Regions from separate parts of the Homo sapiens genome. Here region 2 is linked to region 1. The links come from fine-mapping of genetic effects on gene expression. A gene starts in region 1. The other region holds a variant in brackets. All regions are shown on one strand. Distances are from middle to middle. Region 1 holds the start of WNT5B (Wnt family member 5B). Region 2 holds the start of LOC107984507 (a long non-coding RNA gene).

Region 1 (16,591 bases):
TATGGCTGAAGAGAAGCCTTTATAAGGAAATGGCCAGAATTTGAACTGGATCTTAAGAATGGGGGTCAGGCAGATAAGAAGACGAGGGGTGGGGAGCAGCTCTTCATTTTAATAGAGGGCAAAAAGAGCCAAACCTCAACAGGAGAGCACAGGCCTCATTCAATGAGTAGGAGTGACTAGTTCAGTGCAGCCCAAGTACATGATAAGCCATGGAAAGCAATCAATCCTTTGCGTGGTACTCCCTTTGGGCCTTTAAAATCCAATCACTTTACATACATCACGATCTAGTCTACTTGTTTTCACTGCCATGTCTCACTTTGAGCTTCCCCTCATCCACTCTCCACCAGTTCAGAGGCTCTCCCTTTTGCTCATCATCTACCAGCCATATAGAGTGTTAGATGAGAAGGCTGCAGATTTGCTATCTGAGTAAAAATGCTAGTGGCAGAGACCATGCAAAATAGGTGGTGATCGCCTGCCATTTCCCTGTCAACTTGGCAATGACAACAGCCCTTAAAACATAAGAAGAAAGCCAGCCACCCATGGTGCTGTGAACCCCTCATCTGGCCTTCAGACTTATAAAAGAGGAATTCTATATCCTACCAGCAAAACACACAAAACAAAGGAACAAAAAACTACCAAGTATTGATATTCTTGTTGACCCAAGAGCAATTTCTAACAATTCATGGGCATGAGGGAAGGTCCAAGGAAAAGGAATGTGGACAGGATTAGAGAAAAAAATCAAATGAACGGAACCTTTATCCTCAGGGAACCCTTACAAAGATAAGGGTTGAGAGAGACACAGAGCGTTCTTAGTTTTCCTGGGATAAAAGAGGCCCTTAGTACTCCCAGGAATCAAGGTACTACCGTGACACACGGTGCCCTTCCTCCTCATCTCAGTCGCTGAAGGAGGCCTCCGGCTGTGCAGGCAGGACCTCAGCCCCTCTTACTCACCACCAGGAGTTGGCGTCTGTCAGAAGCTGAGCCCAGCTGGACAGCAGAGCAGCCGTGAACAGCAGCAGCAGGCTGGGCATGGTCGGCCTCAGCCCTCCCCAGTGCCCTGGGACTGACAGTTTCCAGAGTAGGGTTCCCTGGAGAAAACAGAAATGGAGAGTCAGTGTGGAAACTCAGCGGATAAGGGCAGACCAGGAGCCGGGGTGAGGCGGAGAAAGTTGCACTGATGCTTACGTGCTGCGTGTTCCCCACAAAGAAGCTCGGCCTCTTTCCAGCCTCCGCCTCCCACTGCTCATCTTCCCACCCTAGGACTTCTGTCTCTTACCCCAAACTGTGGGAACCCTGCACAGGACCTAATTTCCAAAGAAATAATGAGCTGAGAAACCACAAAGAGAAATGAAAACAAGTAATTTCAAGAGCGGAGCTTGCGGCGTTCCTCCGTTCGGCAGCCGGGAGGCCACTTCGGCTGTTGTAAAGCATACCTGTCCTTGCTGCAGAACATCCAAAGAAATGGGGCCCATCCTATCCACTCCCCCACGTGCCTACCTCTCATTCCAGCCCAGAGACTTATTTCTCTGACCCTCAGGCTCTCCTTTGTAGGATTAAAACATTTTGGTGAATTGGATTTACCTGCACCCAGGGAGGAGTCTCCCCTCTCCATCTGCGCCCTTCTCACCCTCAGCGGGTTTCCTAAGTCCCAACCCCTGCGTACAGATCAAGGACTTTTCACTTTCTCAAGGCAGCTTCTCTGAGAAATGTACAAGCCACGCCGCGAACCGCCCGCCCGGAAAGCTCTGGCGGCTGAGGTGGTGCCTCCCTAGGCGGCCCCTGCCCCTCCCGGCACCGTGGTCCTCGAGGGCGGCACCGAGTACCTTGCCCAGCAGCTGCACCGGGGACACTGCCGACGCCAGGCGGCAGCTCTGGCATCAAATGCCTGAGCTGAGGACGCATCTTCCAGATGCCACAGCCCTTCCCTGCTGGCTCCCGGGCCTCCCGCCTCTTGGCCTCCTGCCTGCTGTAACCCACGCCTGTTCCTCTATCCGCCCCCGAGAGCCCCTGTCCCCAGGCCCTGGGACCCGCAGCAGGTCAGTGCTGCTAGAGCGAGCCTGCGCCTCGGGACACACGGCCCCTGCGGCTCCCCCGCGGTCCTCCGGGGCCCCCGTCTGGGCGTGACCCGCGCCCCCAGCGGCCTCCCCGGGGCCCCGGACCTGACGAGCGCAGCCCCGCGCGCCCCGGCTCACTGCGCCACTCTCGCGCGTCGGCGTCCCCAGGCTCCCCGGGAGGGGGCGGCGGGTGCTTCGGGTCATCAGCCCGGGAAGTATTTTTGTCCTGGGGCCGCCAGGAGAGGACAGTGGCCCGAGCAGGGTCCAGGAGAGCTGGGACACAGCCCTTCCCCAAGCCCCCTTTTGATTTTCCTTCTCGAAGCCTCGGCTGGGGCGGGGGCACCAACAGGCAGGTGTGTGGGGCCGGCAGGGGGCAGATCAAAGAAGACACTTGCTCCTTCCCCTTTGTCATGCAGAGCCAGCTCGGAAGTGAGCCGGCCCCCAGCCCGGGACTAACAGCTTCCACGCCCGACTCCCCTCAGACCCCCCCTCCTCTGGAGGATGCCCCTCCCCCTCTCCTCTCCCCCCATAAATCCTCCTCGTCCCCCGGGGCAGAAGGTCTGTGAATGCACCGGCTGGAACCACGAGAGATGGAGCAGAGATAGGGCTGGCACCAGGAGCTAATGGTTTTATGGAGGGGAGGCGACCAGGTCCCGAGTAGGGAGGACGAGAGAAAAGCTTCAAAGCGTTTCCTTGTCCAAATATCCTTAACTCCACCTACCAGTCCTTCCCGGGGTTGCAGAGCTAGGGCCGCCCGTGCCCTCCTGCTTCTCCAGCCTCCTCCCCGCGGCCCCGAAGCCTCCTGCCCAGCCTATGCCCAGCCCGTGCCCAGCCCACCACCCTGCCGCCCGCAACACCTACTCTCCCTGGGGACTTTGATCCTCACACATTTCCACCACCAGATAGCGGAGTTCTTCCTCCCCGCCTGTGACACTTGTCCCTCACACCAGTGCCTCTCACCTCTGTCACCCGTCCATCAGGCTCCAGTGGAATCTCTCTGGTCCTGCAGTTCCTAGGTTCAAACTAGGCTACATTGGGGGCCACCGTTTCCGAGCCAAAGACAGGCCTGGGTGCCTGCTAATGGTCACTGTGGCTGTGACTGCCCCCAGGACAGGCTGACACGGTAACTAGAGCCAGACTTCCCAGGAGCTGCTAATCCCGCCCTCAGTGCCTTATAAACATATATGGAGACAAGAATCACTCCCGCAGCTGTTTCTACTCCATCCCCCGCCCCGGGCTTTCCACGAGGCGGCTCTCAGCCCATTAAAAATGTTTTTTTTTTTAAAAATTGCCCCCCAAAATGGCTCTAACATGTGCAGTGGCTTCTTTCTCTGACTTCCAGATGTGTGGTACCTGAAACTGAACTCCCCCATACACACATATGCACGCGCGCGTGCACACACACACACACAACACACACACCAGCCCCCTCAGGACGCTCTCTGTCCTGGCAGACAGATGCGAGCCAATTCTTGAGTGGCCATAGAACTGAAGCCAGGCAGCTGTTTGCCCTCTCTTACATTCTTGTGCTGGGGTGGGCTGGGGTGGGAGGAGAAAGGACCCCTTAGAAAGGTAAATGCTGGCGACTGGTTTCATCAGCATGGGCAGAATGGAAATTTCTTGCCTCAACCCGACTGGGAAGGCAGGAAGCTGTATGGGGGCTGACGGTTTTGTGTTAATGAGCAGGTCACATTGGGACCCCTGTTTGTGGGTCACTAGTGAGATTTATAGCAGGATTCAACCAGGGGAGGCTCTCCTTGTGTAGGAAGAAAGATCTGGTAAATGCCCAACAGGCAGGAAAAGGCCTTTGCAATAACTACAGATTTCCCCAGGGTCTAAAAAGATTCCCCTTCCTAAGAGGCAAGTGTCAATTCAAACATACCAAACACAGTAGTTAAGAATGCGGGGCTCTTCGGGGGGCCAAGGTGGGCAGATCACCTGAGGTCAGGAGTTCGAGACCAGCCCGGCCAACATGGTGAAAGCTCACCTGTAATAAAAAAGTATAAAAATTAGCCAGATGTGGTGGCACATGCCTGCAGTCGCAGCTACTTGGGAGGCTGAGGCAGGAGAATCGCTTGAACCTGGGAGGTGGAGGTTGCAGTGAGCCAAGATAGCACAACTGCACTCCAGCCGGGTGACAGAGCAAGACTCCATCTCAAAAAAAAAAAAAAGTGGGAGTCAGGGTCTCTATTCTTTAGTAGTAGTGACTAGGAGGCTGTGGGGAGGGAAAGATGCAAAATTCCCAATCAGGATCCTTCCAGAAGCCAGAATGAGCTGGTCAGACATCTGCTCTGTTCCTCCTCTTCATTCATCCATGCAGCCATTCAATACATTCATTAATCAAATGAATTACACCCTGGGTGCCTAATATGTGCCAGTTACTGCTCTAAGTGCCAGAGACATGGCAGTGAACAAACAAATGTATCATAAGTTAGGTCCAGTGAATACTATGAGGAAAATAAAGAGGGGACCAGAATCAAGAATGGGAAGGGGTGGTAGCATACTTGATGTAGGGTTCTTGGGAAGACTACTCTCTGAAATATCTGTGCCCCCAAAACCACTGTGTAGGCAGGATGGTGGGAGGGGATGTAACGATGCTACACCTCCAAGACCCCCTCTAGAGCACATCCAAGGTCCCTGCTGAGATGGCACTGTCCCACTTCACCATCACAACCAAAGAGGTGCGTGTTGGAAGACAGGAACTCCAAGATCTCCTCCTTTTTCTGCTAGGACTCAGTCACTCACTTTCATTTCCTTAAGGGGCCATGTCCATCCAGCCTAGAGTTAAGAGACCAAAAAGAGAGACCGGGACAGGTAAAGCTGAGACCCCAAGCAACTCTGTGCTTTCCACCATACTTCAGAGCAGTGCCTGAAACAACATCTCTGCCCCACAGGATGAGGGGTTGATTTCAGGTCATTAGCCATTCACACAAACCCACTGATATCTAGAACTGACTTCCCCAGCACCCAGGGACTCAAGCATCTCAAGACTCCTGCAGGAAATGGAGCCACCTCCCACATCTGCCCCTCTCCTCAGACAGGCACCGTCACATCCAGAAACCTGTCCAGAAATAGCCACGAGCCTAGGTGGGGACCTCTTCAAGGGTGCTGAGCAGGCCTCCTTTGTCACTGAGGCCACACCTTCCAAGATGCCTTCCCTGACCATCCCTCCCAGAGAAGGCCCCCATCGCCATTATTCTACTTCTAGCTTCTTGCATGTTTTAGCCGCAGCATTTAATGTGCCATGGAATAGTGTGGCGTGCTCATCTGTTGTGGTTTTGTTTCTTTCCCTCATATGCTCTGGAAACGGTCTTATTTACCATTTTTCTCCCCAGTGGATAGGATAGTACACAGGGGTATGTGGGAGTTGCTAGAAAAATATTTGTTGACTGAAAGAAAAGAAAAGCACTCTTACTTGGTCACCCAGTGGGGAGCTATAGAATGTGTAATTTAAAAATACATTTGGCGGCCGGGCGCAGTGGCTCACAACTGTAACCCCAGCACTTTGGGAGGCCGAGGCGGGCAGATCATGAGGTCAGGAGATCGAGACCATCCTGGCTAACACGGTGAAACCCCGTCTCTACTGAAAATACAAAAAAATTAGCCCAGTGTGGTGGCGGGCGCCTGTAGTCCCAGCTACTCAGGAGGCTGAGGCAGGAGAATGGCGTGAACCTGGGAGGCGGAGCGTGCAGTGGGTCAAGATCGTGCCACTGCACTCCAGCCTGGGCGATAGAGTGAGACTCCGTCTGAAAAAAAAAAAAATACACTTGGCCTGGAGTAGTGGCTCACGCCTGTAATCCCAGCACTTTGCGAGGCCGAGGCAGGTGGATTACCCGAGGTCAGGAGTTCGAGACCAGCCTGATCAACATGGAGAAACCCTGTCTCTACTAAAAATACAAAATTAGCCAGGCACGGTGGCACATACCTGTAATCCCAGCTACTCGGGAGGCTGAGGCAGGAGAATTGCTTGAACTCGGGAGGTGGAGGTTGCAGTGAGCTGAGACTGCGCCATTGCACTCCAGCCTGGGCAACAAGAGTGAAACTCTGTCTCAAAAAAAAAAAAATACACTTGTGGCCAGGTGCAGTAGCTCACACCTATAATCCCAGCACTTTGAGAGGCTGAGGTGGGAGGCTTGCTTGAGCCCAGGAGTTCAAGACCAGCCTAGGCAACACAGTGAGACCCTGTCTCTACAAAAAAATCTAAAGTTAGCCGAGCATGGTGGTGCCTGGGAGGCTGAGGCCAGAGGATCGCTTGAGCCCAGGAGTTCAAGGCTGTAGTGAGTCGTGATTGTGCTATTGCACTTCAGCGTGGGTGACAGATTGAGACCCTGCCTCAAAAAAAAAAAAAAAAAGAGAGAGAAAAAAAACAGGCAGGGTGCGGTGGCTCATGCCTGTAATCCTAGCGCTTCGGGAGGCTGAGGCAGGTGGATCACTTGAGGTCAGGAGTTTGAGACCAGCCTGGCCAACATGGCAACACCTATCTCTACTAAAAATACAAAAATTAGCTGGGCGTGGTGATGGGTGCCTGTAATTCCAGATACTTGGGAGGCTGAGGCAGGAGAATCGCTTGAACCTGGGAAGTGGAGCTTGCAGTGAGCCGAGATTGCACCACTGCACTCCAGCCTGTGTGACAAAGTGAGACTCCGTCTCAAAAAAAAGAGAAAAAACAAAAGAATAAAAGTACATTTGCAATTTTGTTAACATTCCTGGCATAACAGGGTAAACCATCTTAGCAGTCTTTGGAAAGGAAATGCTTCCCTTTGTGAACTCCTGGCTGCATTGCTGTTGAAGGAGGGGCCTCAGACTGGATGATTTCCATGGGACAGGGGAGGGGCAGGTGGAGGAGGAGCAGGCCTTGCTAGCTGGAGTCCTGTGGCTTCTCTCCCTTTGGCCACTCATTTCTCGTACTGTAGAGAAAGACTGTTTATGGACCTCAGCACAATAGACAAATACCTCCTAAAATGTACATCAGGTTCACTCATTTCCTTCCCAATTTCCAGGTGAGTACTCACCCTTCTGGCATCTGAACACCAGAGTAGTTCTTCGTGGTCTCACTCACAAGTGCACATAGACACAATACCAGTTTTCCCTAAAATACTAATTTTACATCATAATATTCCCCTATTTGAAAACGTATAGTGGTTCCCAGTTCTTTATTTCCAATGTGGCCTCATCTTACCTCTCATTGTTTTCCTGAATTTCCCAACATGAAGTCTCCTTTTCCAATGTCCTTCTACTCCTAGAACAAACCCCACTTTTCCCCCAAGACCTCATTCTGATCCTCTTCCCAAGGAAGCATTCTCCTCTGCTCTGCAGCAATCCAGATATTAAACTACTTTCACATCCAGGCTCAAGATTCACTCCCTCCATAAAACTGTGCTTGATTAACCCCACCCCATGAGAATCTCATTCTCATGGGTTGAGACCGAAGAGGTCTCAACCTCTTCGGCCCTTATGAATCCATGTATCTGGTCTGCACCTCCCTACCCCACTTATGCTGCCTTGGGCTGTTTCTCAGGTGAAGTATATACTTCTTACTTCTCTAGTAGATCAAATGCTTCCTAAAGGTTCAAACTTACCTTTTCTACTTTCTCTGCGAGCCCCTTTGCGCCCAGTATGGTTTTACTCAGCAGTAACAAATGTCTTTTGATTGATAACCAGTGACAATAGCTAGTATTAATCAACATTTATTGAGCACCTCTTAGTGCACTGCACTAAATGTTTCACATCTATTTTTCTCATTTAATCTCTGCCAACATTTGTGGCATATGCCATTATTATTCTCACTTTGAAAACAGGGAAACTAAAATTAAGTACTTGTTCATACAGCAATTGAATGGTTGACCCTGGCTTGGAATCCAGATCTTTCTACTCTTCCCCAAATACAGGTCCTCCCTGTCACTAGAGCATAACACCTTCTCTGCTTTCTCTTTTTTTTTTTTTTTTTTTTTTTTGAGACAGAGTCTCACTTTGTTGCCTAGGCAAGTGGCATGATCTCAGCTCACTGCAACCTCCGCCTCCCGATTCAAGTGATGCTTGTGCCTCAGCCTCCCGAGTAGCTGGGATTACAGGTGCCTGCCACCACGACCGGCTAATTTTTGCATTTTTAGTAGAGATGGGTTTCATCATGTTGGCCAGGCTGGTCTTGAACTCCTGACCTCAGGTGATCCACCTGCCTCGGCCTCCCAAAGTGCTGGGATTACAGGCGTGAGCCGCGGTACCCAGCCTCTTTCTTTTCTTCGTTGCACCATTGCCCTGTTACTACGGCTGCGAATAGTGTGAAAGTCAGAAAACAACATTCTGATATGCAGGAGATATCACAAAAAGCAAGGTTTACAAAACATGCAAAGTTACTAGTATTAATACACACACTTAGATACACACACAGCCTTGTGGGCGGAAAGAACTAGACTTCTCCCCTAGCCAAAATGATATGTGGGTTGAGAACAGGCCAGGCTGCTTAAAGCTGGAGGAATTAAAACATAATAGTTTTAAAGAGTTGGTACTTAGTTTTACTTTGGGATGGAAAAGACAAACCAGGTCAAGAGCTATGGGTCTGGAAGGGTGGATCCTGGTTTGGTGTGAGGGGCTCATGGAAGATGCAGAGGTGAGGTACAGAGTGCACGTGAAGAAACATAAGGTTTGGAGAGAACGTGGAGGGACATTTTAGATTGGCCTTAACAGTGAAACTCACCAAGAAACTATGTCCTCAGCAAGAAAGGCTCTTACTTCGATAGCACAAAACTGTCTTGCCTTTCAGTAGATATAGCGATCGAGGAGCTCTGTTCAAAGCTTAGATTTGACCATGTGACTTCTTTGCTTAAAACCCTTCAAAGAGGCCGGGCGCGGTGGCTCAAGCCTGTAATCCCAGCACTTTGGGAGGCCGAGGCGGGCGGATCACGAGGTCAGGAGATGGAGACCATCCTGGCTAACACGGTGAAACCTCATCTCTACTAAAAATACAAAAAATTAGCTGGGTGTGGTGGTGGGCGCCTGTAGTCCCAGCTACTCGGGAGGCTGAGGCAGGAGAATGGTGTGAACCTGGGAGACGGAGCTTGTAGTGAGCCGAGACTGTGCCACTGCAGTCCGGCCTGGGCTAAAGAGCGAGACTCCGTCTCAAAAAAAAAAAAAAAAAAAAAAAAAACAACAAAAAACCCTTCAAAGGTTTCCTATCTCCTAAAGGATGAGTCATAACTCCTCACCCCATTACATGACGCCTTCCAGAATCTGGCCCCGCCAACCTTTCCATCCTCTTTAGGATTTCATGCTGTGCTTTAGAACCCCAAACTCCTGATACCTCCTTACCCAAACCCATCCTGTTTCTCCCCGCTGTGCCTTGCCGACTTCTGGGAATGGTTTCTCCTCTCTCTGTGCAGAGCAAGCTCCTTTGTCATTGAGGCCACACCTTCCAAGAGGCCTTCTCTAACCATCTCTGCCAAAGAAGGCCCCCAGCAGCATCATTCTATTTCTAGCTTCTCACATGTTTTAGCCACAGCATTTAATGTGACATGGAATAGTGTGGCATGCTCATCTGTTGTGCTTTTGTTTCTGTCCCTCATATGCTCTGGAAACGGTCTTATTTACCATTTTCTCCCCAGTGGATAGGATAGTACACAGGGGTATGTGGGAGTTGCTAGAAAAATATTTGTTGACTGAAAGAAAAGAAAAGCCCTCCTCTGGCTCTCAGGGAAAGAGGAAGCAGGCCACGAAGGCCAGCCTCTCATGAAGACAAGGAGAGTCCCTTCGACTTCCATACAACTTGGTCCATTTGCTGTGAGGAAGCTGCTTGACTGTACCTCCCCTTATCTGAGAATCCACTGCTAATTGAGATTTTGGAGATTCCTGGTCCCAGACATAACTCTCTGTCTTTTCCTCAAAGACATAAGTAACATTCAGCTTCTAAGAGTAAAGGCTGGCACTGCTTAATAAGATAATGTAAAAATGTGTAAGACCTTGGGGAGTGCCCCAAGGTGCATTGGTCTAGCTGGGGAAAACAGAAAACCTGCCCAGAAAAGTACACTATAAGAAGTGTCATCTACTAAAAATACAAAAAATTAGCCGGGCGTGGTGGCGGGCGCCTGTAGTCCCAGCGACTCAGGAGGCTGAAGCAGGAGAATGGCGTGAACCCGGGAAGCGGAGCTTGCAGTGAGCCGAGATCACGCCACTGCACTCCAGCCTGGGCGACAGAGCGAGACTCCGTCTCAAAAAAAAAAAAAAAAAAAAAGAAGTGTCAGAAGAGCCTAAGGGAGCAGCTGTACTCAGGATGTGGGATTTGAGTAGGGCCTTGAAGAATATGAGGGCTTTTAACAGGAGGAAAACAGCAGAAAGGATTTCACATGAAGATGTGGTTTGGTCAAAGAGAAAATTTCAAGGTGCTTTTCGAAGAAGAGGAGAGATAGTGCAATGAAGGAGGACTTCAATAATTTCCACTGTTTTCAGAATTGCTTGTTCGTGAAATTTATGTAGTCCCTCCAAAATCTAATATGGGGCCAGGCATGGTGGCTCACATCTGTAATCCCAGCACTTTGGGAGGCCGGGATGGGAGGATCACTCGAGGCCAGGAGTTTGAGACCAGCCTGGCCGACATAGTGAGGCCTCATCTCTACCAAAAAAAAAAAAAAAAATAGCTGGATATGGTGGCACATGTCTGTAATCCTAGCTACTTAGGAGGCTGAAGCGGGAGGATCACAGGAGGTCAAGGCTGCAGTGAGCTATGATTGTACCACTGCACTCCAGCCTGGATGACAGAGGTCTCTAAAAATAATAAATGTTAAATTAACTTTTTAAAAAATCTGATTTGGTATTCCCATTGATAATTCAGCATCAATTACCCAGGAAAACTCCCATCATGACATGCTTCCAGTTTCTGGGGGCAACACTGCAGGAATGGGGTCAAAGACATAGGGGACCAGTCACCCTGGATACTGTCCTTTTGATCATAAAATGTGGGTTGAGTGAATCTTCCTAGAGAGCCAAATATAGAAGTTAAAATGCTGATTGATTACACACCTTCATATCAATCATGCGTGTTCTCTGTCTTCCAATTCTCTTCCTGTATCCAGGCCTGAAATCTTGGTATCCTTTGTGACTCCTCCCTCTTCTTTGCCTTCCACGTCAAATCAATTGCCAAGGTCTCTTGATTGTATCTCTATAGTGTTTTTTGAATATATTCCCTACTCAACATTCCTATTGTCATACTATGAGCTACTACAAGAGCCTGCTAATTGACCTCTTTTTCTCTAACAAATTGCAATATCTTATGTCCCATTCTTATCTCTTGAAAGGATAAATGAATTTCCCCATGGCAGTTCTCTAACTTTCAAAATAACAGGGTGGGGCGCGGTGGCTCACACCTGTAATGCCAGCACTTTGGGAGGCTGAGGCGGGCAGATTACGAGGTCAAGAGATCAAGACTATCCTGGCCAACATGGTGAAACCTGTCTCTACCAATAATAGAAAAATTAGCCAGGGGTGGTGGCGCATGCCTGTAGTCCCAGCTACTTGGGAGGCTGAGGCAGGAGAATCGCTTGAACCCGGGAGGTGGAGGTTGCAGTGAGCCAAGGTCGTGCCATTGCACCCCAGCCTGGCCACAGAGCGAGACTCCGTCTAAAAAAAAAAAAAAAAAATTTGCTGGGTGTGGTGGCGGGTGCCTGTAGTCCCAGCTACTTGGGAGCCTGAGGCAGGAGAATCACTTGAACCCAAGAGGCGGAGGTTGCAGTAAGCCAAGGTCGCGCCATTGCACTCCAGCCTGTGTGACAAACTGAGACTCCATGTCAAAAAAAAAAAACAACAACAAAAGAATAGCAGCACTCTTGATAGCCTCAGACCAGAAGCAACAATATCCATCAACAATAGAATGGACAAAACAATTAACTGTGATATATTACAACAAAGAATTATTATGCAGGAAGGAAAACAAACTACAAGTTACATGCAACCACATGCATGGATCTTCTGAACATAATATTGAGAAGAAGCAAGTCACAAGAAAGTATATGAACTATGGTTCCATTCATAGCAAAACTATCTTGTTTGGGGACCCACACATTGGTGGTTAAGCCATAAAGAAAAGCAAGCAAGGAAATGATGACATCAGGGAGTGGTTTCCAAGGGAGGGGGCTGTGATGAGGAAGGGGCTCGAGGAAGTTCCTGGGATACCAGCAATGTTCTATTTTCCAACCTGGTGATGGATATGTGGCAGTTCACACTACAGCAGTTTATTAAGTTGTGCATGTATTATGCTGTATGCAATTTTCTGCATTATATTAGACAACAAAAATATTTAAAAATAAAAAAGTCATATTAATACCTAATGGCTTGAAGGTCTTTATATATTATATTTTCTTGGCGGAAAGTACAATTATGGTCTCATGGGGCATGTGACCTTTTTTATTTTTATTTTTTGACTTAAAAAAGAAGATCCTCATACTCAAAAAGAAACATGTTGGGAAATTTAGGTAGAGACAACCACGTGGGATGACTATTTGAGGGCAGGTGGGGCTGGTGGGAGGGAGTTCTGTGCAAACCAATGGGTATTGCTCTCGCAGTGCCAGGCCTGGATCAACGGCACATGAATGGCAGCCGCTACGCCAGGAGCCGACTCAGCATTTCGCTTCCTCTCTTGCTCAGTCCAGGAAATGAGGATATGGCAAAATCACCCTCTGTCTCACTTTTTTTTTTGGTCAGTTATTACTATTTAGTTCTGTAGCTATCTGTTTCTCTTGCATGAATTTTTTTCTAGATAGCATTCTTCCCCAAAAAACATTTTTAAAAAGTAGTAACCAAAGATGAATCCAATAATGTACCAATGACTTTATCTGCAAATTCCACCACCTCTTACGAGAATCCCCGGATGCTCATCTTTCTTCTCAGCTCAATTAACACAGCCTTTCCCTGCCAGCCTTAATTATTTCTCCCGAGGGTCTCTGTCTCTAGGTTTCTCTCTAGTTCTTCCTTCCAAGCTTTGCTCAATGAATCCTCCTAGCCCTGAGGCATAGTATTCTTTTGTGTGATCTGCTTGTGTGTATGCATAATCTACAGTTGGTAGAAATGAAAATAAAAAATTGGGCGGGGAGAGGGTTGTATCAGCTCCACCATGATTGCAGCAGTCCTTTGGGAAGCCTCATCTCCCAAATATTCTGTGTCTTTTCTCATTGTTTCTCTGGCTTGCAGGAGAAGAAATGTCTTAGGGGTGGGGAGGGGCTGGGGGCTTGGTGGGAGGGGCTGGGGGCTTGGTAGGAGTGATGAGATTTAAATTCTGGCCCTTAAGAAAAATGCTAAACTACCCTTCCCCAGAAATGTGTGTGCCATTCCCAGTGATAAGGTACACAATTTGGGAAGTATATAGCAAAACAGACCCAATCACAGTGCAGGGTGGCAGGAGCGCAGAAACAATTCCTGAGGCCTTCACACTAAAATCTAATGCCTGATGTTCCAGAGAATAGAGCTTCCAGCTTCCAACTCCTGGTGCCTGGAGCAGTGTGAAAGTGACCAACTCATGCACTGTGAGAATAAATTCCACAAAGTAGGCAGAGCAGATCCCTAAGACTCTGGGTCCCTGTACAATTCCCAGAAATGGCAGATCTCAGATGACTCATCTTACTTGGAAAAGCACAATTTTCTCCCCAGGTATCAAGCAAAAGTCCACTGGAAGTCTTATTCTGTGCAGATGATAAGAAAGAGGAAGTTCCCTTCTCCTGAATACTAATAAAATAGTTTTAAAATATGCTCTAGAAAAGAAGGCAGAAGTGTATAGGTCACAGGTCAGTGTGGTTTAGGAATTGTTTCAAGAGAACAAGGCTATGGACTTTGTTTTCAAGGGCTGGAGGATTGAGGGGTGTTTAGATGCTCTTGTCCTGCAAGTAATCTATTTTCACCAGATCTAGAGTTCTGGGGTATTGTACTATAGGGGAAAAACATTTATTTGTGCAATTGCTACTGTTTTCTGCAAATTCCTGTCTACTTAGAGTGAATGAAGTAAATAAATGGACTTCTGGATCACCACCAAGGGCAGGTGGATAACCTCTCTCTATGCCATGCGCTAATTAGAATAAAAATGTGTCTTGTGCTACCAAGTAGAGGTACTACTGTGTTTGCAAAATGGAGCGTATTTTTAAAGGACCTGGGGAAACCATGCAACTTTTAAAACCAGGATCACCAACTGGCAGTCAGCTAGCTGTCTTTTCTTTTTTGGAGACATCGTCTCACTGTCACCCAGGCTGGAGTACGGTGGCATGATCACAGCTCACTGCAGCCTCGAACTCCTGGGCTCAAGCGATCCTCCCACCTCAGCCTCCTGAGTAGCTGGGACTACAGGTGTAAGCCACTGTGTCTGGTTAAGTTTTTAAATTCTTTTGTGGAGATGGGGGTCTCCCTATATTGTCCAGGCTGGTCTTGAACTCCCGGCCTCAAGCAATCCTCCCTCCTAGGCTTCCCAAAGTGCTGCGATTACAAGCATGAGCCACTGCGCCCAGCCCAAGTGTCTTTGACTAACACAATGTTTACAAATCTTTGGAATATGAATGTCTTGGTGGGTGGCACACAGGTTCTCTAACTTTCCCAAATCCCCACTGCTCTCTGCTGTCTTTCTCCTGGCTACTTCACTCATTCATTTTGGAATGTTTGGAGCATTCACAAGTCATGTTCCAAAAGACTTTCAAATTTGCCATGCAGTTCTTTTTTCTTTTTCTTTTCTTTTTTTTGAGATAGGGTCTCACTGTGTTGCTCAGGCTGGACTGCAGTGGTGTGATCATGGCTCACTGCAGCTCTGATCTCTCTGTGGTCAGGTGATCCTCCTACCTCAGCATCCTGAGTAGCTGAGACTACAGGCACATGCCACAATGCCCAGCTAATTTTTGTATTTTTTTGTAGAGTTTCACCATGTTGCCCAGACTAGTCTTGAACTCCTGGGCTCAAGCAATCCACCTGCCTCAGCCTCCCAAACTGCTAGGATTATAGGCATGAGCCAGCCCATCATGCTGTTCTTTAAAGGGACCTCAATATACATATTATATATATATTTTATATATTACATATATGATAATCATTGTACTAAATGCATAGTCACCATTTATAAATCTGGATTTTTACAGGTGGTATTTTCTGCAAGTAGTTATATTGACTCTTTTTCTAAGCAATTCTGTAATTCCACCCCAGAAACTAAGTTTAGATAAGAAGTTATGGCCTCACCTGATTCCAGTCTTCTCGCTCTCTTGAGATCTTACTGAAGCTGTCAACCTTCTGCTTCAAAAATTAGCAGTTTCCATTTGGAAGAATAGGATAATTGCTTCATTTTTGTAAACAGGCAGGAGATGAATGTTGCAATGAATGGAACAGCGGAAGGACAGCACCCCTGGGTCCACAGCACCTTCAACGGCGAGCCCCAGAGCCTGTCTTCATCAGTCAGGTACCCAGGGGCAAGCGGCAACACAGGGACCACGGCTAGAGGGACTCTAAAGGCAGAGCGTAGCGGAGAGGCTGCAAGCGAATTCTCCTCGTCACTCACTGCTCATGCAGAAACGACACCTGGGTTTTTATCTGGGGGGAAACCAGTAGCTCTAAGTAATGTGGGTCCCTCTAATGCTGTCCCCAGCTGTCGCCCCTGTGTCTCAAACTGCTCCTTTGATTGTGCGGGGAAGACCTTCCAAATCCTTTGAGAGAAGAGGAACCAAGCAGCTTTCTAAAGAAAACCACAGGCAAAACAAGTTCACGCCCACTCAGGCACAGCACCAGTTCCTTCCTCACCGATGAGAACATTCAGAGCCAAGGTGGTCAGCTCTCCTGTCTCCCCCTCCAATGCTAAGCAGTTCACATTCCCTTTGCCAAAACTAGAGTCCCTGCTAGCAAACCTCAGACCAGGTTTGTGGGTCTCACAGGCCCTAGTTTTGAGAATTAAATAACCTCTGTGGCTGCCTCAGGCAAAAGCATGATCACCAAATTCAGGCCTGGGCAGGTTACAGAGGCTTTTGGTTCACCACCAAAATTCTTTAGTTTCTTTTATGGCTCTGCCAGGCTTCTTTTCACGGAACTCCTGACCCTCTTGCTAAATTGCTCCCTCGACTGCCTGTTTTCTTGGTGAAGGCTGCAATGATGGGGGTCAAGCTTGCTGTCTATGCTGCCCCAGCACGGGGCTCTGCAGAAAATGAAGGTAACACAAGGACAGCCTCTGGGAAGCACCTAGCATTCAGCAGGCACTCAATAAATGTTAACTGTTCATCATTTAACACATGCTTACTGTAGGTTTACTCAATACACAGTACTGTATAGGATATTCCAATCAATTAATACAATGCTACTCTCCTAGGAACTCAATATCACTGCCCAAGATGGTAGCCACTGACCACATGTGGCTATTTAAATTAAAAATGAATTTAAATTAAATGTTCAGTTCCTCCATTGCAGAAGCCACGTTTCAAGGGCTCAGTAGCTACAAGTGGCTAGTGGCTATTGTTTTGGACAGCACGGATTATAGAACGTTTCCATGATCACAGAGAGCTTATGGACTGTCTCATAGTGCTGGTCTAGAGTGGAAGCCAGGC
Region 2 (12,300 bases), 87 kb after region 1:
GCCGAGGCAGGAGAATCGCTTGAATCCGGGAGGCGGAGGTTGCAGTGAGCCAAGATCACGCCACTGCACTTCTGCCTGGGCGACAGAGGGAGACTCTGTCTTGAAAAAAAAAAAAACAGTCAAGGTAATAAAAGACAAAAGTAACACTAAGGCATTGTCACACTGGAGGAGATTAAGAAGACATGATGATTAAATTTAATGTGAGATACTGGATTGAATTTGGGGCCAGAAAAAGACATTAGGGAAAAACTGATGAAATTGGATGAAGGTCTGTAAATTAATTAACAATACTGTAACAATGTTAATTTCCTGTTGTTGATCATTGTACTATGGTTATGTAAAATGTTAGCATAAGAAAAAACTAAGTTGGAGCGAGACTCCAACTCAAAATAATAATAATAATAATAATAAAGAAATAAAAATTAGCCAGGCATGGTGGCGTACACCTATAGTCCCAGCTGCTCAGAAGGCTGAGAGCAGAGGATCGCTTGAGGTCCAGAGTTTTGAGGCTGCAGTGAGCCATGACTGCACCAATGCACTATGGCCTGGGTGACAGAGCAAGATCCTGTCTCAAAAAAAAAAAAAAAAAAAAAAGAATGAACTACTGATACCTGCAACAACCTAGATAAATCCCACAGATATTATGCTGAGCAAAAGAAGCCAAATACCAAAAAGCTGAAAAATAAACCATAATTCTGGTATAAATCTATTCGTGTGAAATTCTAGAACAGACTAAAGTGATCTCGAATGACACAAATCAGGTCAGTGGGTGCCTGAGTTGGGGTGGTGGTGGGGTGTGGCTACAGGGAAGGGAGACAAGGAGATTTCTGCAAAAGCAGAAGTATCTTGATTGGGGTGGTGTTGCATGGGTGTGTATATTCGTCCAAATTTATTGACCTGTACACGTACAACGTGCGAATTTTACTGTATGTAAGTTATACTTCAATAAAGTTGATGAAGAAGAAAAAGTCAATAGTACCTCCACCATTCAGCTGTGGCAACACAGGGTGGGGAGTGGAGAAAGAAATACAGAGAGGGCAGAGTGTGTGAAGCTAATGAATTTCACACAGCGCATGAGGCTAATGAATTTCACACTATAAGACTTTCCCTAGCCCTCAACTGTGAAAGTAGGTTCATGGTAACTTCTCAGAAGTCTGTATGCCATATTGAATGAGAGAGATCAGCAGGACACCATCTCCCCACAGCATATTTTTTGAGGGCAGGTCTCCTAGGCTATTTTTTTTTTTTTTTTGAGACATACTCTTGCTCTGTCGTCCAGGCTGGAGTGCAATGGTGCGATCTCTGCTCACTGCAACCTCCACCTCCTGGGTTCGAATGATTCTCCTGCCTCAGTCTCCCAAGTAGCTGGGATTGCAGGCACCCGCCACCATGCCCGGCTAGGCTAATTTTTGTATTTTTAGTAGAGACAGGGTTTCACTATGTTGGCCAGGCTGGTCTCGAACTCCTGACCCCAGGTGATCCACCCACCTTGGCCTCTCAAAGTGCTAGGATTGCAAGTGTGAGCCACCATGCCCGGCCATGTCTCCTAGGCTTTTAAGCATAAAAGTAGGATGCTGCTTAAGACTTCAGCACATGGAGTGGGTAACAGTGAACTTCAAGAATCTCATTTGAAAGGAAATATTTTAAAGCTGTTTGGTAAGGTTTCGACCAGGATTCTTGATTTGGTTACTGTATAACATGCTGTATGTGTCGAAAATGCAATATTATTTAGGTCAGACTACTGTTAAATTGACATGTGTGTGTAGCTTATTAACGCCAGCATTAAGTATGAAAATAACACCACTTCATTCCTTCCTCCCAGACACAACCAAGCTTTTGATTCTGTCGGCAGAACCAGTCACTGGCAATTGCACAATAGCGCGTTTTGTGGTTGTTCAGAAGCATAATTAGAGCCAACATTTTCTGGTGCTTTCTAAGTGCAAGGCTCTGCATGCATTTATAACGTAAGTGCTTTCTATTCATTTCATGTCATCCTCACAACAGCTTTTTAAGATTTTAGCAGGTGAGGAAACTGAGGTCAAGCAAGTTTGGCTGACTTGCCTCAAGGTCACCTGTGTGTGCTGGTCACACTGCCATGAGGTTTTGGGGCGAGGGTTGAGCCAGCACCTGTTGCACTGCAGAACTTAATTTTTTGTTTTTTTTTTTTGAGACGGAGTCTCGCTCTGTCGCTAGGCCGGAGTGCACTGGCGCGATCTTGGCTCACTGCAACCTCCGCCTCCCGGGTTTCAGCGATTCTTCTGCCTCAGCCTCACAAGTAGCTGGGACTACAGGCACGCGCCACCACACCCAGCTAATTTTGTATTTTTAGTAGAGACGGGGTTTCACCATGTTAGCCAGAATGGTCTCGATCTCTTGACCTCCTGATCCGCCCACCTCGGCCTCCCAAAGTGCTGGGATTACAGGCGTGAAACACTGCGCCTGGCCAGAACTTGATTTTTTTAAAACACTGTACATAAGAGATTAGATTTACTCTTCATGATAAATATATTTGTGTTAATGTTAACAACATTTTACCCCATATTTTCCAGTGCCAAGGCAGTGAAACAGGAAAGCATAAAATGAAAAAAGAAAAAAAAAAGCTTGCATTCTACTTCTAGGATGTAACTTCTTTTTGATCCTTTGGGATACTATTTCATCTCACCAGACAAGTTTCTATAATTTCAAAGTCTCTCTCCTAGAAATAGACAAATAAGAAGACAAGTGCCAGGTATGAATCAACACTGAGTCACCTGGAGCTGTGCTTTGTCAGTGAATTTAAACAAGTCTTTGGGTCACAGTTCCCTTCTGCGTATCAGGTAGGAACAGCACTTCGTTGTTCTTACCGTTGGGTATAAAGCACTTCCCTACACGCCATGTCGCTTGACCCTAGCGGTTCTATGAGATAGGAAGGGGTTACACTGTGACTCCATGTACCAATGAGAAGAGGGAGACTGGCAGTGATGAGCACATTTGCTCAAGATTCTCAGCAATGCAAGGGCAGAAATCCTGGACTGCTGATTCCCAGGTGGCCACGAGCAGCCCAGCAGGCTCAAGCATCAGGGTCCAGGGTCCATGGGACGTCCAGTTTTTGCCTAGAATTTCCTCTCTCAATTTTAACATGGTTAATAGATGTTCAACTTGAAGGTGACAGGAAACAAATATTCTGTTTGGCAAAATACAAAAGTGCATTTCCAAGTGAACACCAAGTTAGGCACCAGGAAATGACAACAGGTCCCCTTAGTAAACAGTGATCAATTACCTTATTTCACCAAACCTAAGATGCTACTGATTCTAGAATGCACCATTATTTTGTACCACCAAGAAAGAAAAGTACTTGTCATCAAACTGTCATACAATATTGATTCTGAGATGCATTCTGACCTCAGATATGTTGAAATGCATCTTAATATCGATGAAACATGGTAATTATGGCTGGATTTCTTGAACCGGGGAGGATAACCTGTTTAGAAGTCACTAGCTCATTAACGTGTCAATATGGCTGAGCAGCAGCAACGCCGAGTGGTGGGATTATCAGTGAGGAGAGAGGAGCCCAGACAAGGAGGACATCACTCCTGCCATCCAGGAACCCACCTCTTGGTTGGGAGGACTGTCCAGGAAAAGTCCAAGAGCCTGGAGCTGCAGACCTCTCAACAGGTCTTCGGTAAAAGCAGCTGTCATGGAAGTGAATTCTCAGGTCTCCTTTGTCTCCTCAATCATCAAAATAAACCAAATTATAAAACACTCTGATCTTCTGCCTAAATTCCGACAAGGTATTTCAGAATCTAGGTGTCAATTTCTTGACACTTTTACTTTTTTTCAATGAAGTGTTAAAGTGGGACCTAACATTGACTAAGTACATGATACATGTTAGGCATTGCCCTAATTCACAAAATTATCACATTTCATTCTCAAAAATGACCTTAGGAGTTGGGCATTATTATCCCTGTTTAAACAGTGAAGAAACTGGAGTTCAGAAAACCTAAATGGGCAAGGCAAGCCAATTAGGCTTGAACAGCTGAGTTAGTTTAAACCGAAGTCCCCCTGAGCCTCAAGGCCATGCGCTTTCCACCGGACAGGACGGAAAGCACGGGCTCGCAAAGACTTGTAAAAGCTTGAAAATCACCGCCAGACTAGCCAAGGAAGGCTGATACCCCAACTACACAGTAAATACCAAAACCTCTTCTGCTACAGGACACCTCGTTCAACTTGAGGACCTGTTTAATCAGCAGGGTGGCCGTTCATGGGTGAAGAGGGTAGCGGCATGGTCCACCTGGGAGCAGCGGGAGAGATGGCCTTGTGAGGGTGGGCCCAGGGACAAACAGCTAGTGAGAAAGCTGCTGCCATAATTCACATCAGCTCCCCAACGGCCTGCCCTCGGCAGTAGCATGGAAATAGGATGTAAAACGGATAATAAATCCACAGGATTTAGGAGAAACAAAAACAAGGGAAGACTGTCAGGAAAAAAACAGAGGCATTTTGGAACAGCGGTCGTCTCCCAGGGTGACTCTGCTCCCTCCCGCTCTCCCCACGGGACATTTGGCAATGTCCAGAGACATTTTTGGTTGTCATCCTTCGGAGTGGGGTGCTACTGGCATCGTGTGGGTAGGGGCCAGGTGTGTTCTCAGACATCCTACAATACATGGAGCAGCCCTCTTCAACAAAGAATTATTGGGTCCAAAATATCCATGGTGTCGGGGCTGAGAAACCTGACTCTTGAACAACCTTAAGGAAACAAAAGTGGTGAAGACATTGCCCTTACCCAGCAGCTCATCAACCAAAAAGGCAAAGAAATCACAGGGACTGGCTCTGCATGGACTCCAGGTGCTCACCAGGAAACAGATCACGCACTTGTCCAGCCATCCCTGTGATCTACCACTGTGTGCACCCGATCCACGCCAGGCTCAAGAGAGGAGCTGGAGAGGAGGAGAACAGGCACGGTGCTGGCCCTCAAGGTGTCACCACCTGTCCGGAGGAGACGCGCATGTGTGGAAACACACACCTGAGCCTGTAAATACATGTGTGCTTGTACACACAGGCAGAAAAAACCGAAAAGGAATGCACCAAAATCCTACCAATGATAACTCAAAATCATCATTTTCTTCATATTTTCAATGAAAATATGAATGAATTAAAAAATGAAAAAAAGTCAATGTTTTTCAGTGAACATGTTATACTTTCATCAGTTCTGATAAAACAGGCATATCCCAGGGCCACATGTTCTCGCCAGCTGCCCCACCTCTATGGTATGGCAAAGGAGGCCAAGATGGGGAGGGAGCAACGGAGCAGAGGAAGAACCTACGATTTTGTTTGCTTGTTTTCAGACAAGGTCTCCCTCTGTCACCCAGGCTGGAGTGCAGCAGCACAGTCATAGCTCACTGCAGCCTCAACCTCCCAGGGTCAAGGGATGCTCCCACCTCAGCCTCCCAAGTAGCTGGGACTACAGGTGTTCACCACCACACCCAGATACTTTTTAAAATTTTTTGTAGAGATGGGTGTCTTGTTATGTTGCTCAGGCTGGTCTAGAACTCCTGGCCTCAAGCCATCCCTCCCAAAGCACTGAGATTACAGGAATGAGCCACCACGCTCAGCCTGTTCCCACTGTTAACACTCTTCCCTGCCAACAGGTGAAACCGCTGTCTTTCATCCACTTAAGTCCTTCAGCAAATGTTCACTGAACACCCACTGCGTGTCAGGCACTGTCCCATGTACTCTTTAAGATACAACAGTGGACAAAACAGACAACAACCCCTGCCCTTGTGGTGTTTCTGTTTTAGCAAGGGGAAGCAGACAGAGGACCAATAAGGGAAATATAAAATACCTGTATGTTCCATGGGTATAACAGAGAGAAATAAAGCAGAGAAGAGGGCTAGAGAATGATGAAAGGGTTATGATCTATATAGGAAAGTCACAGAAGTCCTCGCTAGGGTGAGGTCGCAGAGGTAAGTGGGGGCTGCCCACCAAGGGCTTGCAAGCCAGTGTGAGAACTTGGCTTTCTCCTGCATGAGATGGAAGGCCACTGGAAGGTTTTGAAGAGAAAAGTGACAAGATCTGACATATCACACAGGATTGCTGCCCTAACTAACTCAGAAAGACCAATTAGGAGGTGCCTCCTAATGAGCCGGGATGAGAAGGGTAGAGGAGGTGAGAAGTCATCAGGGTGCTGAGAACGTTCTGAATTTGGATTTGGCAAGAATCACTGATGGATTCGATGTCAGAAGGGAGAGAAGGGAAAAGTCAAGACTGACTCCAGGGTTTACAGCATGAGCAACAAGGAGGATGAGATGGAGAGGGCTATGGGAAGGCAGGGACGAGCTCAGAGGCATGTAATTCTGTAGAGGAGGTGCTGCTTCAGCAACACCGGTCTGGAGTTCAAGAGAGAGGAGCAGGCAAGACACAAAACCATGAGGTTCCTAAGGGTAGAGACAGTACTTACAACCATCAGAGTGTACAGTACAGTCACACGTCGCCTAACAACAGGGATACATCCTGAGAAACGTGTCATTAGGCAATGTCATTACTGTGTGAGTGTCACAGAGTGAACTTACACAAACCTAGATGGTAGAGCCTACTATACACCCAAGTGAGATGCTCTAGCTGATTGCTCCTGGGCTGCAAACCTGCACAGCATGTGACTGTACTGGATACTCTAGGCAGCTGGAACACAGTGGTAAGTATTTGTGTATCTAAACAAATCTAAACATAGAAAAGGCACAGTGAAATATCTTATGCAACCACTGTGGTCTATGCAGTCCATCATTAACCGAAACATCTTTATGCAGCGTATAACTGTACATAGAGAAGACAAGAGGTCCAAAGAGATAACCAGGTGAGCTGCTGCCGATGAGCAAGAAGAGAAACTGGAAGAGTGAGATGCTCTGGAAGCCAAGTGAAGGTCGTACAGCAAAGGGGAGGCAATGGGCCAGCAGTGGTGGCTCACACCTGCAATCCCAGAGCTTTGAGAGGCCAAGGTGGGAGGATCACTTGAAGTGGAGTTCAAGACCAGCCTGGACAACATAATGAGACCCTATCTCTACAAAAAATTTAAAAATTAGTCGGACACGGTCGTGCGTGCCTGTAGTCTCAGCTACTCACGAGGCTGAGGCAGGAGGATCACCCGAGCTTAGGATGAGCTTTGGTCAGGCTGGTCTCGAACTCCTGACCTCAAATGATCCTCGGCCTCCCAAAGTGCTGGGATTACAGGCGTGAGCCACCTTGCCCAGCCTAAAGCTGATTTTAGATATGACTTCACAGAGGTTACCTTTTTAAGAATAACAAAATGCAACAAGTTAAGATTTTGGGTGACTTCCAAATCCAGGGAACATATCAGCATTTGCTTAGTTAAAACGACAGATGCCTCTGAGATGGGGTCAGCAGGACCCCCTCCTTTTCAGCCAGGGACTCGCCGGATTCTCAACTGCGCAGGACCACGTCAGCATTGAGCTCTCCTCTCCCATCGACCTGCCTCCCTCTTCCTTCCCTTCATCAATATCACCACAAAAGCTGTCGCATCTAGAGCCCCACAAGGCTCCAGGCATGGTCCAGATGCTTTATGTACACTAGTCCTAACCACCACATACCACATAGAGATAGGTATAAAGTTACGGTTTCCAGTACACAAGTAAGAAAACAGAGACACAGAGAAGTCAGGTAACCTGCCCTACCTCAGGTGACGCAGCTGTGCTGGGGTTTGCACCCAGAAGTCTGCCTCAAAAGCCCTCCTCGTCCCAGCATATACCCTATCAATGCAACTGAAAATGCCCCCTCTTCCTTCACTCACCAGCCCCCGCTCCCAAGGGTGATATTCTAGTTCTCAATTTATATACACAATCTCTTTAAAAGTTTAATTGCTTTGATTGCAGGTCTCATACCCCCAAACAAGATTTCTAAGAAAATTCAGTAATTCTTTACTCAAAATTTCTCAGGAGAAACTTCTCAACAAATACTGGTGAAATCTATAACCTTAGGGAGGAGTCTATGACAGGCACTCAACTTTGCCCCAACCTCCCAGAGCAAGACAAGCCTCCTGTCATCTGGGGGATATTCACCGGTAAGAAAAATGGGTGCGGGGCCACTGGCCTCTTGCCCATGTCCATCCACTGGTTAAGTTCAGGAAGTGTCACCAGTGAAGGCACGACACCAGCAAGAGCCCAGGAGCTCAGGGCTGCTCTGTGGCTGCGCACCTTCGGTTCTGGGCTTGACCTCTTTAAGAGGAGCCACACTGAGAGCAGCAAACAGGATGACCACGAGCTGGCCTCAGAAAAGCTTTGTTACTTTAGATTTTTCATAACATTATATTTTTATGTTACAGTTTTTGCTTCCACAACAGGACTCAGAGCAAATCCAACAATTAATCATTTGCAGATAACTCTAAAGTGACTTTTGGGGGCTAAAGTGTGTAAACCAAGAACTTTTGAGTTCA[C/T]TGCCTTTTCTAAGCCAAGGCCAGCTATCGTTTCCCAGGCCTCAGTAAATCCACTGTATAAATCAGACAGGAGTAACCTTTTAGGAGTTAGCATTTCTGGGGCTCTAGGAGGCTACAGAGGAGACTGTATACCCCTTTAAGAAAGGTTGGGGTGCCTCCCCCTAGAACTCAGGCACCAGCCCCAAAGTCACCCAAAGCTGGAGACAGAGGCTTGTCATAATCTCCCAGATGCCAGCGAACCACAGAGGCCCCTGGCAGGCCCAAGCCCAAAGCCAGGAGCACAACCTGAGCCTCCAGCTTGACCACAAACCCTGCCTCTGAGACCACGGCTGGTGAAACAGTAACTCTGTGAAAGCAGCAGGCCCAGAGCACCCCCCACCCCTCTGGTGGGGACACTCCAGGCCTGTCCACAGCAGAGGGATTCCCAAACCTGAAAGAGCTCGAGCTGTTCAGAGTGACAGGATGTTAGAGCTGGAAGGGGCCCCTGGGACCAACTAACCCAATGCTCTCACTTTATAGAAAAGACAAGCAAGGCTGGGCAAGGTGGCTCATGTCTATAATCCCAGCACTTTGGGAGGCTGAGGCAGGAGAATCACTTAAGCCCAGGAATTCAAGACCAGCCTGGGCAACATAGTGAAACCCAATTTATACAAAAAATTAAAAAAGAACAAAATTAGCCAGGCATGGTGGTGCACGGCTCCTACAATCCCAGCCACTGGGGAGACTGAGGTGAGAGGATCACTTGAGCCCAGGAGGTCGAGGCTGCAGTGAGCCATTATCATACCACTGCACTCTAGCCTGAGCAGCAGAGAAAGACCCTGTTAAAAAAAAAAAAAAAAAAAAAAAAAAGGAAAGAAAAGAAAATATTACTGAGATCCAGAGAGAAGCTACCGTGTGCACCCCAACCCACTCAAACACCCTCCCCAGCAAAACCTCAAGAAAAGACAGTGATGCAAAGGACAGGACATCCAGGTGGGTTGGTTTCTTAGGGGAGCTGGAGGTTTGGGGTGCCAAAGACCTTAGAGAATGCCCCTGTCCCTTTAAGGGCTGCACTGCTGCCAGCACCCTACGTGCTTACTCAAAGGGGATCCGACAGCCCGGCAGCCAGGCTGGGTAATGATTACAGTCAGCACAGCCCCCTGAGGACCTTAAATGACAGCTTGAGTCTAGGCTTCCTGTGATCTCCGTGCACAGTATCTGGAAGGGTTAGGGGAGAGCATCTTCCCCCAGTACCGAACCAGGTTCCAACTCACCCAGGAGGAAAGAGATGGGAAGAAAGCCACATGGGTGGAGAAGCAGCGGGGAGAGAGACCAACTTTAGAAAGCCTAGAAGAGGACTCATGCAGCACAAAGAGACCACACTGCAACCACAGGGGCGAAGAAGTCAGGAAATGCTGCCGCAGCAGCCAGCCCAGTGGCGAGACCGCAAGCCAGTGGCTCAAACTGGGATGGAGGGGGCGGAGGTTTAAATTTAGCCAGGTAAACAGAGCCGGGCCAGGGGTGGAGAGGGCCTGGTAGGGGCTGTGCAGTCACCTGCTCTCCAGAGTTGGGGCATTTCTCGCTGAAGGGAACAGTCCAGCCAGAACTGTACCAAACAGCGGATCCGTTTTCAGGGTTCCTCCAGCATGCTGCTTGGGGGAGCACACAGGCTGCGCCCCAGAGATGGACAGAAGGTTAGTTTTACTTTAAAGGGTGGCTCAGATTTAAAATGAGCATGTCTTTTCATCTTGATGGCAATATCGATGCACAATCCCTCTGCTGGATGTTTCTGGACTCGTAGATAACGGTGAAGACGCTCAACAGAAACCAGCCAAGGCTGCCCGTAAGTGGAGCTCCCACATGCTCTCATTGCCCAGAGGGCTTTTACATCTACTGCTGTTGTGTGTCTTCAGAGACCTGATGGAGTTACCCAACAACCAGTAACTACCACCACGACCACACACTCTGAGGACTGCATCCAGGACTAGCGCTGGAGCAAAGATGGGCTCTGAAGACCTGGTTAGAAGATGAAGGAGATAAATGGCAGGCGGTTTGAAAAGGAGCCAGAGAGAAAAAGCTCTCGCTGACACGAGAGCTTTTTTGGACTGACTGGTTTCTATTTCAGAGAAGACAAGGACTATCACCACACGTAAAAACTTCCCTCCATGCTAGAGAAGCCAGGCTGCGGCAATCCAGAAAGCAGCAGAACCATCCTAGAATTAAAAATTAGAACAGACCAGCCTAGTCCTCTGCCTTTCTTGACCTTGAAGAAGAGCAAACAAAAAATCTTTCAGCTGCCCCTAGAGTCAGAGGGTGAAATACACAAGGGAAGAAGAATTCCAGATTTTTTCTTTTCGCAGCATATGGCTCCCAGCAATTTTGGCAATATCCCTTTAACTTATGCTTTTTGGACAGAAAAAATTTTAGAAAAGGGTAGTTTCAAGTCAATAAGAAACCCCTGGTGATATTACAATCACCAAATGAACTAAAGAGGGGACCGGTTTCAGATACCTTGGAGAAACACACAGACACACACGCTCAATCACCTATTCATATTCAAATACATAAGATATCAGAGCCTGGGAAAGTATGAAATCCATGGGTGGAAAAAGACCAGCCAGCTCCTCCGAGCCTGGCTCCTGCTCCCCTGGCAGGCAGATCCCACAGAGTGTCACACGCCCTTGGCCTGACTGTCTTTAAGAAGAGAAAGAAAGGGAAGGGGAGATGTCTCTCCTGACTGCCTTTGGGTATTGACCCATCCATTGTCACTTTAGGTTCCTTTACTCCCTTCACGTCCTGCCCTGTTGTCCGCGCCACCTGCATCTGTTAGTAAAAAGCCCTGGTTTTAATTGTGACCCTTCCCTTGGACTGCTGGACTTGTCATCACCATGAAGACGCCAGCTCCATCACTCCTCTCACAAGGGTGCCTAAGAGGTCTCTTTCAGCACTGCCATCCTTCCAAGGAGACACACCTCCTCCTTCTTGCTATTTATAACCACGAATCTTGTGTGTCAAAGCGAGAACAGACACTATTTTGAGATGGAGGAAAACCACCCCTCAGTCTTCCACCTCTAATAGGTCGGTGTGTTTGCCAGGACCTGTGTGTGTGAGCCTAGGCAGGGGTGCGGCTGCAAGCTCCAGGTCTGGCATCCGCTCGTCTGTGCCTGAGATGGGGAGTCTTGCCTTTGCGTAAGTGAATTCTGCCGGTTAATCGGATGGCAGGAGAGGCTGGGTGCAGGAAAGGGTCCTTAGGCCTTCTGAGGGCGTGCCCGCTGCTGCCTGGGCTCTCCGTTGCCTTAGGGGCCAGCCACAGGAGGGGGCTCCCTAGGCTTCCCCCGTGTGCCTGGACGAGTGCTGGTGGCTGGCTAGCGGCTGCCCCTGCCCTGCCGAGCCAGGGTTTTCGGCTCCACACTGACGGCACGGGCACAGACGTCCCATCGCAGCTCTGGTGACTGGGCACATTCCGGGGCCCCTGGAGCAGTCTGGGGGGTTGATTCCACGATCCCTAGTTTTTCTCCTCCAGGTACCAGGCTGAACCTCTGCCCAGGGGAGTAGCAACTGGAAGCTGTTGCCAACGTGGCCAGGTGGCAAAAGCAGTGAAGAAGGGCCCGGGTGAAGTGGAGGGGACACCGGACACACACACACCCCTTCAGCTGAGTAACCAACGCAGGGCCGGGGCCACCTCAGTTTCCCTCCCTGTAAAACAGGGCCGGGCAGGCTCCCCGCAAACCGAACTGCCTCTCCCAGCGGTCTGCAGCAAATACCCGGGGGTTCGGCTCCGACTGGAGCGCGGGCTACGCGTCCACCGAGGCTCCAAGAAAGTGAAGGAGGAGGTCTCGTCCCGCCTCTCCCACGGCGGGGACGTGGAGCGCCGGAGCGACCGGAGAAGCACAAAGCCGAGC

Evidence for each region. PIP is the estimated chance that this variant, and not a neighbour inherited with it, causes the effect.
Region 2: its variant is fine-mapped to the expression of WNT5B in lymphoblastoid cells (GTEx, PIP 0.97).

Annotation. Positions count from the first base shown.
Region 1 is chr12:1,615,795-1,632,385 of GRCh38, reverse strand. WNT5B (Wnt family member 5B) reads right to left here and starts at 3,155. Exons shown (of 5, transcript NM_032642.3): 1 at 3,015-3,155; 2 at 952-1,088. The coding sequence starts at 1,031. RefSeq lists an enhancer at 1,428-1,527 and silencers at 1,709-2,003, 1,958-2,017, 2,048-2,237.
Region 2 is chr12:1,531,393-1,543,692 of GRCh38, reverse strand. LOC107984507 (a long non-coding RNA gene) reads left to right here and starts at 11,501. Exons shown (of 2, transcript NR_160736.1): 1 at 11,501-11,587; 2 at 11,922-12,300. RefSeq lists enhancers at 9,636-9,785, 9,936-10,135. The variant C/T (reference allele first, on the strand shown) is at 8,420.